Linked DNA regions of Homo sapiens: regions 1 and 3 are each linked to region 2. The links come from fine-mapping of genetic effects on gene expression. A gene starts in region 2. Each other region holds a variant in brackets. All regions are shown on one strand. Distances are from middle to middle. Region 1 overlaps SHISA5 (shisa family member 5). Region 2 holds the start of USP4 (ubiquitin specific peptidase 4). Region 3 has its middle 8.9 kb from the start of SPINK8.

Evidence for each region. PIP is the estimated chance that this variant, and not a neighbour inherited with it, causes the effect.
Region 1: its variant is fine-mapped to the expression of USP4 in whole blood (INTERVAL, PIP above 0.99).
Region 3: its variant is fine-mapped to the expression of USP4 in whole blood (INTERVAL, PIP above 0.99).

What each region holds. Positions count from the first base shown.
Region 1 is chr3:48,482,606-48,485,453 of GRCh38, forward strand. All of the region lies in intron 2 of SHISA5 (shisa family member 5), which reads right to left. Among named protein-coding and RNA genes, the nearest start is that of TREX1, 18 kb to the left of the region's middle. The variant C/G (reference allele first, on the strand shown) is at 1,215.
Region 2 is chr3:49,339,053-49,341,552 of GRCh38, forward strand. USP4 (ubiquitin specific peptidase 4) reads right to left here and starts at 1,001. Exons shown (of 22, transcript NM_003363.4): 1 at 872-1,001. The coding sequence starts at 972. RefSeq lists a silencer at 942-1,131 and enhancers at 1,172-1,671, 1,302-1,471, 1,562-1,621.
Region 3 is chr3:48,341,110-48,343,957 of GRCh38, forward strand. No RefSeq gene overlaps it. Among named protein-coding and RNA genes, the nearest start is that of SPINK8, 8.9 kb to the left of the region's middle. The variant C/T (reference allele first, on the strand shown) is at 1,257.

The DNA of each region.
Region 1 (2,848 bases), 860 kb before region 2:
TTCAAGGACCTCATTTTTAGCAATGAAAACTCACTTTTTTTTTTTTGAGACAGAGTCTCGTCTCTTGTCGCCCAGGCTGGAGTGCAGTGGTGCAATCTCGGCTCACTGCAACCTCTGCCTCCCAGGTTCAAGCGATTCTCCTGCCTCAGCCTCCTGAGTAGCTGGGATTACAGGCATGTGCCACACACCCGGCTAATTTTTGTATTTTTAGTAGAGATGGGGTTTCACCATGTTAGTCAGGCTGGACTCGAACTCCTGACCTTGTGATCCACCCATCTTGGCCTCCCAAAATTCTAGGATTACAGGTGTGAGCCACCGTGCCCGGCCTTTTTCTCTTTGACACAGGGTCTCATCTGTCACCCAGGCTGGAATGCAGTGGTGTGATCACAGCTCACTGCAGCTATGACCTCCCGGGCTCAAGTGATCCTCCCACCTCGGCCTCCCAAGTAGCTGGGACTACAGGCACATGCCATCCCACCTAGCTAATTTTTTTTTTTTTTTTATTGATCATTCTTGGGTGTTTCTCGCAGAGGGGGATTTGGCAGAGTCATAGGACAATAGTGGAGGGAAGGTCAGCAGATAAACAAGTGAACAAAGGTCTCTAGTTTTCCTAGGCAGAGGACCCTGCGGCCTTCAGCAGTGTTTGTGTCCCTGGGTACTTGAGATTAGGGAGTGGTGATGACTCTTAAGGAGCATGCTGCCTTCAAGCATCTGTTTAACAAAGCACATCTTGCACCGCCCTTAATCCATTTAACCCTGAGTGGACACAGCACATGTTTCAGAGAGCACAGGGTTGGGGGTAAGGTCATAGATCAACAGGATCCCAAGGCAGAAGAATTTTTCTCAGTATAGAACAAAATGAAAGGTCTCCCATGTCTACTTCTTTCTACACAGACACAGCAACCATCTGATTTCTCAATCTTTTCCCCACCTTTCCCCCTTTTCTATCCCACAAAACCGCCATTGTCACCTTGGCCCGTTCTCAATGAGCTGTTCGGTACACCTCCCAGACGGGGTGGTGGCCGGGCAGAGGGGCTCCTCACTTCCCAGTAGGGGTGGCCGGGCAGAGGCGCCCCTCACCTCCCGGACGGGGCGGCTGGCCGGGTGGGGGGCTGACCCCCCCACCTCCCTCCCGGACGGGGCGGCTGGCCGGGCGGGGGGCTGACCCCACCACCTCCCTCCCGGACGGGGCGGCTGGCCGGGCGGGGGGCTGA[C/G]CCCCCCACCTCCCTCCCGGACAGGGCGGCTGGCCGGGCGGGGGGCTGACCCCACCTAGCTAATTTTTTGAATTTTTTGTAGACATAAGGTCTCACTATATTGCCCAGGTTGGTCTGAAACTCCTGGACTCAAGTGATCCTCCTGCCTCAGCCTCCCAAAGTGCTGGGATTACAGGTGTGAGCCACTGCACCCAGCCAAATACTAATATTTAAGAAGAACTTTTTATGATGTCTGGGATTTGCTTTAAAATAATTCAGAAAAAGAAAAGTGGTGGGACATATATAGCACAATGGTGTCAGAGTATTGGTAACGGGAAGTGGGTGATGGATGCATTGAGTTATATTGTTCTCTCTGCTTTTGTACTTATTTGAAACTTTCCAAAATTAGATGTAAAACAAAATAAAATGTAAAAGCGTTATAAACAATTATACCCTAATACACTTGGAGGAAAACCAGTAAAGCTGAGGAGAAAATATTTTTTAAGAAATATGTGGGCTGGGTGCGGTGGCTCATGCCTGTAATCCCTACACTTTGGGAAGCCGAGGCAGGCGGATCACCTAAGATCAGGAGTTTGAGACCAGCCTGGCCAACATGGTGAAACCCTGTCTCTACTAAAAATACAAAAATTAGCGGGGCGTGGTGGCACCTGCCTGTAATTCCAGCTACTCAGGAGGCGGAGACAGGAGAATTGCTTGAACCCAGGAGGCGGAGGTTGCAGTGAGCTGAGATTGTGCTACTCCAGCCTGGGCGACAGAGCGAGACACTGTCTCAAAACCAAAAAATAAAGAAGGCCAGGCACAGTGGCTCATGCCTGTAATCCCAGCACTTTGGGAGGCCAAGGCAGGCAGATCACCTGAGGTCAGGAGTTTGAGACTGGCCTGGCCAAAATGGTGAAACCCCATCCCTACTAAAAATACAAAAAATTAGCCAGGCGTGGTGGCAGGTGCCTGTAGCCCCAGCTACTCAGGAGGCTGAGGCAGGAGAATCGCTTGAACCCAGAAGGCAGAGGTTGCAGTGAGCCGAGATGGCGCCACTGCACTCCAGCCTGGGCAATGAGAGCAAAACTCCATCTCAAAAAAAGAAATCTGAGGCCAGGTGCAATGGCTCGTGCCTACAGGCATGTAGTACTTTGGGAGGCCGAGGCTAGAGAATCGCTTGAGCACAGGAGTCAAAACCAGACTGAGCAACATGGTGAGACCCCTTCTCTACAAAAAATACAAAAGTTGGCTGGGCATGTGGTCCCAGCTACTCAACAGGCTGAGGCAGGAGGATCACTTGAGGGAGGTAGAGGCTGCAGTGAGCCGTGATCATGCCACTACACTTCAGCCTGGGGGACAGAGCAAGACTCAGTCTCAAAAAAACGAAAAGAAATAAAGAAAAGAAACCAGTGTGAGACCGGGCACGGTGGCTCACGCCTGTAATCCCAGCACTTTGGGAGGCCAAGGCGGGCGGATCACCTGAGGTCAGGAGTTCAAGACCAGCCTGACCAACATGGAGAAACCCCGTCTCTACTAAAAATACAAAATTAGCCAAGCGTGGTGGTGCATGCCTGTAATCCCAGCTACTAGGGAGGCTGAGGCAGGAGAATCGCTTGAACCTGGGAGGTGGAGGTTGCAGTGAGCCAAGATCGTGC
Region 2 (2,500 bases):
AGGAGAATCGCTTGAACCCGGGAGGCGGAGGTTGCCGTGAGCCAAGATCACGCCACTGCACTCCAGCTTGGGCAACAAGAGTGAAACTCCATCTCAAAACAAAACAAAACAAACAAGATGGGTAACAATCATACTCGATGCAAAGTCTAGCCTTAGTTTTTCTACTCCTACACAATTACACCACCCAGGAATCTCTCCAGTAGTACAAAGTATTGTCCCCTCTACTAAACAATCTATTAAGATGCCTAATAACTCAGCCTGGGTCTTCTAAATTCTGGACCCTTCATCTTCTATCTAGCTCCAGGACCTAGGCTATCCTCCTCTCCCACTCCAAGACACTGCTGCCGCAAATATTTTTGACACTTGCTACCAAAATAATCGGGGTTCTCAGACATTTGTTCAGCTTCTGACCTTGACATCTGTTGGCAGTTTACAAGTTACAAAGTATCTACTTCTGATTTTCCCCTCAACCCACTGAGGTCGGTGAGCCAAATATTGCTATCCTGGTTTTAACAGTGAGGAATCCAGGTCTGTGACACCTTCGCCCAAGGTCACACGGCGAGTCCTCATGGTAAAGGGCTCTCCCCACCCTTAGGGTCCCCACCAACCTTCCCCTTCTCCACATCCCTCCTCCTGGCCCCCGCCGGGCCCGCCCCCTAGGGCTCCAAATGAACTGAGACGACACTCAGGCCCCGCCTGCGCTTTCCCAGAGCTGATCCTGGAGTTATTCTCCTGAGGGGCAGGTGTCAGGCTACTCTTCCAGGGTCACTACATACCATCCCCGCCCAGCCCCTACTCTAGCCGAGAAAAAGGAGGCCCCTTTTTCTCGGCCCCTGGTTCTGCATAGAGGAAGAGCGAGCCGGGAGCTCACCACTGCGCCCCGCGTTGGAGTGTGGTCCTCATTAAGGGTCCAAGCTCGGACTTCTGAGTCTCCGCATCCGGTCGCTCACGGCAGCCTCCACCTTCCGCCATCTCCTCCGCGGCCCCGGCCCAGCCGGCCCGGACATCCGCCCCGCGCGCGGCGTGCTATAGACCGCGCCCACGCACGCACGCTCGCGTGCCCGCCCCTGCCCCACCTCGAGCCGCGGCCTTCGGCTCCTGCAGCCGCTGTCTTTTCTCCCCTCCGCTCTCGCGCCACCTAGCTCACCGGCGAACAGTGGAGCGGAAAGGCACACGCGAGAGGGGTGGGCGGGGAGCAGCAGCTGCTACTTCCTCCCGCCCTGCCGCCCGCTACGCGGCCTTCGGGCGCCCCTTCCTCTGCTCAGGATGGCGCTACACTTCGAAGCTCTGTTCAGCCCGCCGATCTCAGGGAGTTAGGCAGCAAGCCCACGACCCATCGGGCACCCCAGCCTGGCCTTCGAGGTTATCGTGGTCCTAAATAAATGCAGGCCAGGTGCGAGAAGCCCGGTAGTTAGGTCTGCTCATTCTCACCCCTGCAATTCCGCTTTCAGCTGGAGGCCTTAGGCGAGTCAGCTGCCCAAACGTGGGATCGGGGCTCCTGCTCCAGCGGCCCTACAGGGATTTCGGGAAGTACCATGTGCACCAGCGCCTTGGGACCAAGACTCAATGGTGTGTTGTAGTCATTAACAGTCGCCTTAAACAGTCGACGCCAGAGCCACCTGGCCCACCGCAGAATTCCGTCAGCTCTTCATACTGAGCTACTTGCCAAGCAGCCACAGAGGGGCGATAGCAACAGGGGAAGGAGAGGTACTCCACATTAGTTACCCAGGCGTGTACTTAGTTCCTGGAACAAGATACAACGTCCTGAACACTATGTTTTCCAGTCGCCCCGCTCACACACACAACCCTCCTCTTGGAGGGAGAAGTAAACCCAGAGGAAAGAGGAAGTCAGGCAGTTGGTCTAGATGCGTCTCCATACACTTGTCTAACAGTCCTTGTCCTCAGAGAAAAATAAGACCTAGTTCCTGCCCTCATAGAATCTAGTAGAAAAGAAGAGATGTTACAGAAATAACCTCAATGCCTAGCAGTATGTGGTAAGTGCCATTAAAGTGTGTGAACCAGGCCGGGCGCGGTGGTTCAAGCCTGTCGTCCCAGCACTTTGGGAGGCTGAGGCGGAAGGATAGGTTCAGCCCAGGAGTTAGAGACCAACCTCGGCAACATAGCGAAATCCCGTCTCTACAAAAAAATACAAAAAATAGCCGGGCAGTGGCTCGCGTCTGTGGTCCCAGGTACTTGGGAGGCTGAGGTAGGAAGATCCCTTGAGCCCAGGAGGTCGAGGTTGCAGTGAGTCGAGATGGCGCCACTGCACTTGAGACTGGACGGCAAAGTGAGACCCTGTCTCAAAAAAAAAAAAATAAATACAAATAAAGGGTGTGAACCGGCCGGGCGCGGTGGCTCACACCTGTAATCCCAGCACTTTGGGAGGCCGAGGCAGGAGGATCACCTGAGGTCGGGCATTCGAGACCAGCCTGACCAACGTGGAGACCGAAATGTCTTAAAAAAAAAAAAAAAAAAAGACCGGGCGTCCGGCGCGGTGGTT
Region 3 (2,848 bases), 1.0 Mb before region 2:
TAAAAATACAAAAATTAGCCGGGCATGGTGGTATGTGTCTGTAATCCAGCTGCTCAGGAGGCTGAGGCATGAGAATTGCTTGAGCATGGGAGGCAGTTTGCAGTGAGCCAAGATCGTGCCACTGCACTCCAGCATGGGTGACAGAGCAAGACTCCATCTCAAAATAAAATAAAATAAAACACTTTAAAAATCAACTTTAATTAGAGTCAGTGTTAAACAGCAAATGGGTATTCTTAGAAGATTATCCTAAATGAAATCTAAGTAGTCAGGGACAGAAAGGTTCAGAATATCTGAACCCTTTCCAGATCTAACCCACACTGCAGAATATTCCATTCCAAGTTCTCAGAAAGTGGTAAGATATAGAATGCTAAATGTGCGTGTTTATTAAAAGAAAATTATCCCAGTTTCAAAGTACATATTTAATGGAATATTTAATGTGACAAGAGAGTCTGGATTAGAAAATCATTTAAGTTTGAGACATAGAACGCAAAGGCATGGAATCAAACAACTTAGATTTTGCCATATTATAGAAAGCCAGCATATTTTTAAGATATTTAAAGACAAGCATGCTGGGCATGGTGGCTGATGCCTATAATCTCAGCACTTTGGGAGGCTGAGGAGGGTGGATCATCTGAGGTCAGGAGTTCGAGACCACCCTGACCAATGTGGTGAAACCTCGTCTCTACCAAAAATACAAAAATTAGCCAGGCATGGTGGCACGTGCCTGTAATCCCAGCTACTCCAGAGTCTGGGGCAGGAGAATCGCTTGAACAAGGGAGGCAGGGGTTTCAGTGAGCCGAGATGTGCCACTGCACTCCAGCCTGGGTGACAAAGACTCCATCTCAAAAAAAAAGAAAAAAAAGAAAAAGAAACATAAGCAGCTGAGCAGGTGGAGAAAGAAGGAGAGAGAGAGAGAGAGAGAAAAGAAGTGAGCGAATGGATAGTTAGAGCTCCACAGAATAGTAATAGTAGAGATGAAATATTAAGAAGTTTTGTTTTGTTTTTCTTTTTGTTTTGTTTTGTTTTGCTATGGAGTCTCGCTCTGTTGCCCAAGCTGGAGTGCAGTGGCACCATCTCGGCTCACTGGAAACTCTGCCTCCCAGATTCAAGTGATTCTTCTGCTTCAGCCTCCCGAGTAGCTCAGATTACAGGCGTGTGCCACCATGCCCAGCTAATTTTTGTATTTTTAGTAGAGACGGGGTTTCACCAGTTGGTCAGGCTGGTCTCGAAGTCCTGACCTCATGATCCGCCTGCCT[C/T]GGCCTTCCAAAGTCCTGGGATTACAGGCGTGAGCCACTGTGCCTGGCCTTGAAGTTTTGTTTTTTTATAAAGGTAAGAGTGATGTTTGATTATATGTTTCTATTGAAGGATTTTTTCCCTCAGTGAATCAATGCTGGACTAACATTAAAGACTAAATAATGAAAAATGACAAATGAAAATAGTTTCTAAAACGGATTTTTAAAATCTACAGAAGGATCTGTGATAAAGAGAGAAGCCAGGATAACAGCACTCAAATAAGTAAGAGAAAAGGAGTTAAGAAAAATAAACAAACAATAAAAGTGGGCAGGAATCTGAAACAGAAAAACTGAAGACTAACAAAATAGGCAATAATCATTTAGTGAAAGATAACGACTCACTATATAAGCTTAATTTCCAAAGGGATTGATTTGGTATTAGGTGCTTCAAAAAAATGATATATATATATATAATATATGTGTCATAATATACATATATGTCAATTATATACAATGCATACATATGTTACATAAAACATGTACTTCTCTAAAACAGCAGGTCTTTGAACACAGATATGAGCTGAGATGATTAGAAAGAGTAGATTGCTTAAGAGGAAAAGCACAATGCAGTGTAAATACAGCTCAGAAGAAGCCTGGATGGATTTATTATCATCCATTGGCCTCTGAACTTGATTAAAAATTGAGGAAACAGTCTCCCTAAAATCCATGTACACTCTCACTCTCTAAACTTTGACAGTTTTTTTTTTGCACGAGCAACGCAGCACTGCCACTTTGGCATTACTCTGACATGGCACTTTTCATGTTGCAATATTTTAGAGTCTGTTAGAGCTTAGAGAAGATGACAAGGTCACATTTTGGATGTGTGATGGGATAAAGGTGATCATAAAAGTCAAGTATGAGTGGAAATGTCTCAGCTTTATATGCTATATGAAAATAAGGCCAGTAACTCCGATGTTACTGTCAAGTGTTAGGTTTGCTTTCTTCTCTTAAGAACTTCATAGCCAGTGATTTCATGGTGTTCAACATACAGTGATAGGCTCAGACTCAGCAGTGATGGACACTTTCTCAGGCCCACTAATCCTTAACTGAAGACGATACAAATGGGACTGTAAGCCTGTTCATGAGCATTCAAGCGAATTATTTTCTCAACGAAAAAAAATACATCAGGCTCATCCAGCCAGGGCCCAGAGGGAAGGTGGTAGACGAACATATATTAAACATAATTCATCTGATAATTGCTTTGATGATCTCATCTAACTATAGTCATGCATCACTTAATGATGGGGATACGTTCTGAGAAATGCGTCATTAGGCGATTTCATCGTTGTGTGAACATCATAGAGTGTACTTACACAATCCTAAGTGGTATAGCCTACTATGGTACAGTGTATGGCTCTTAGACTACAAACCTGTATAGTATGTTACTGTACTGAGTACTGTAGGCAATTGTGACATGAGGTAAGTATTTCTGTACCTAAACATATCCAAACATAAAAAGGGTACAGCATAAATATGGTATAAAAGATAAAAATGGTACCATTTATATAGGGCACTTATCATGAATAGAGCTTGCAGGACTGGAAGTTGCTCTGGGT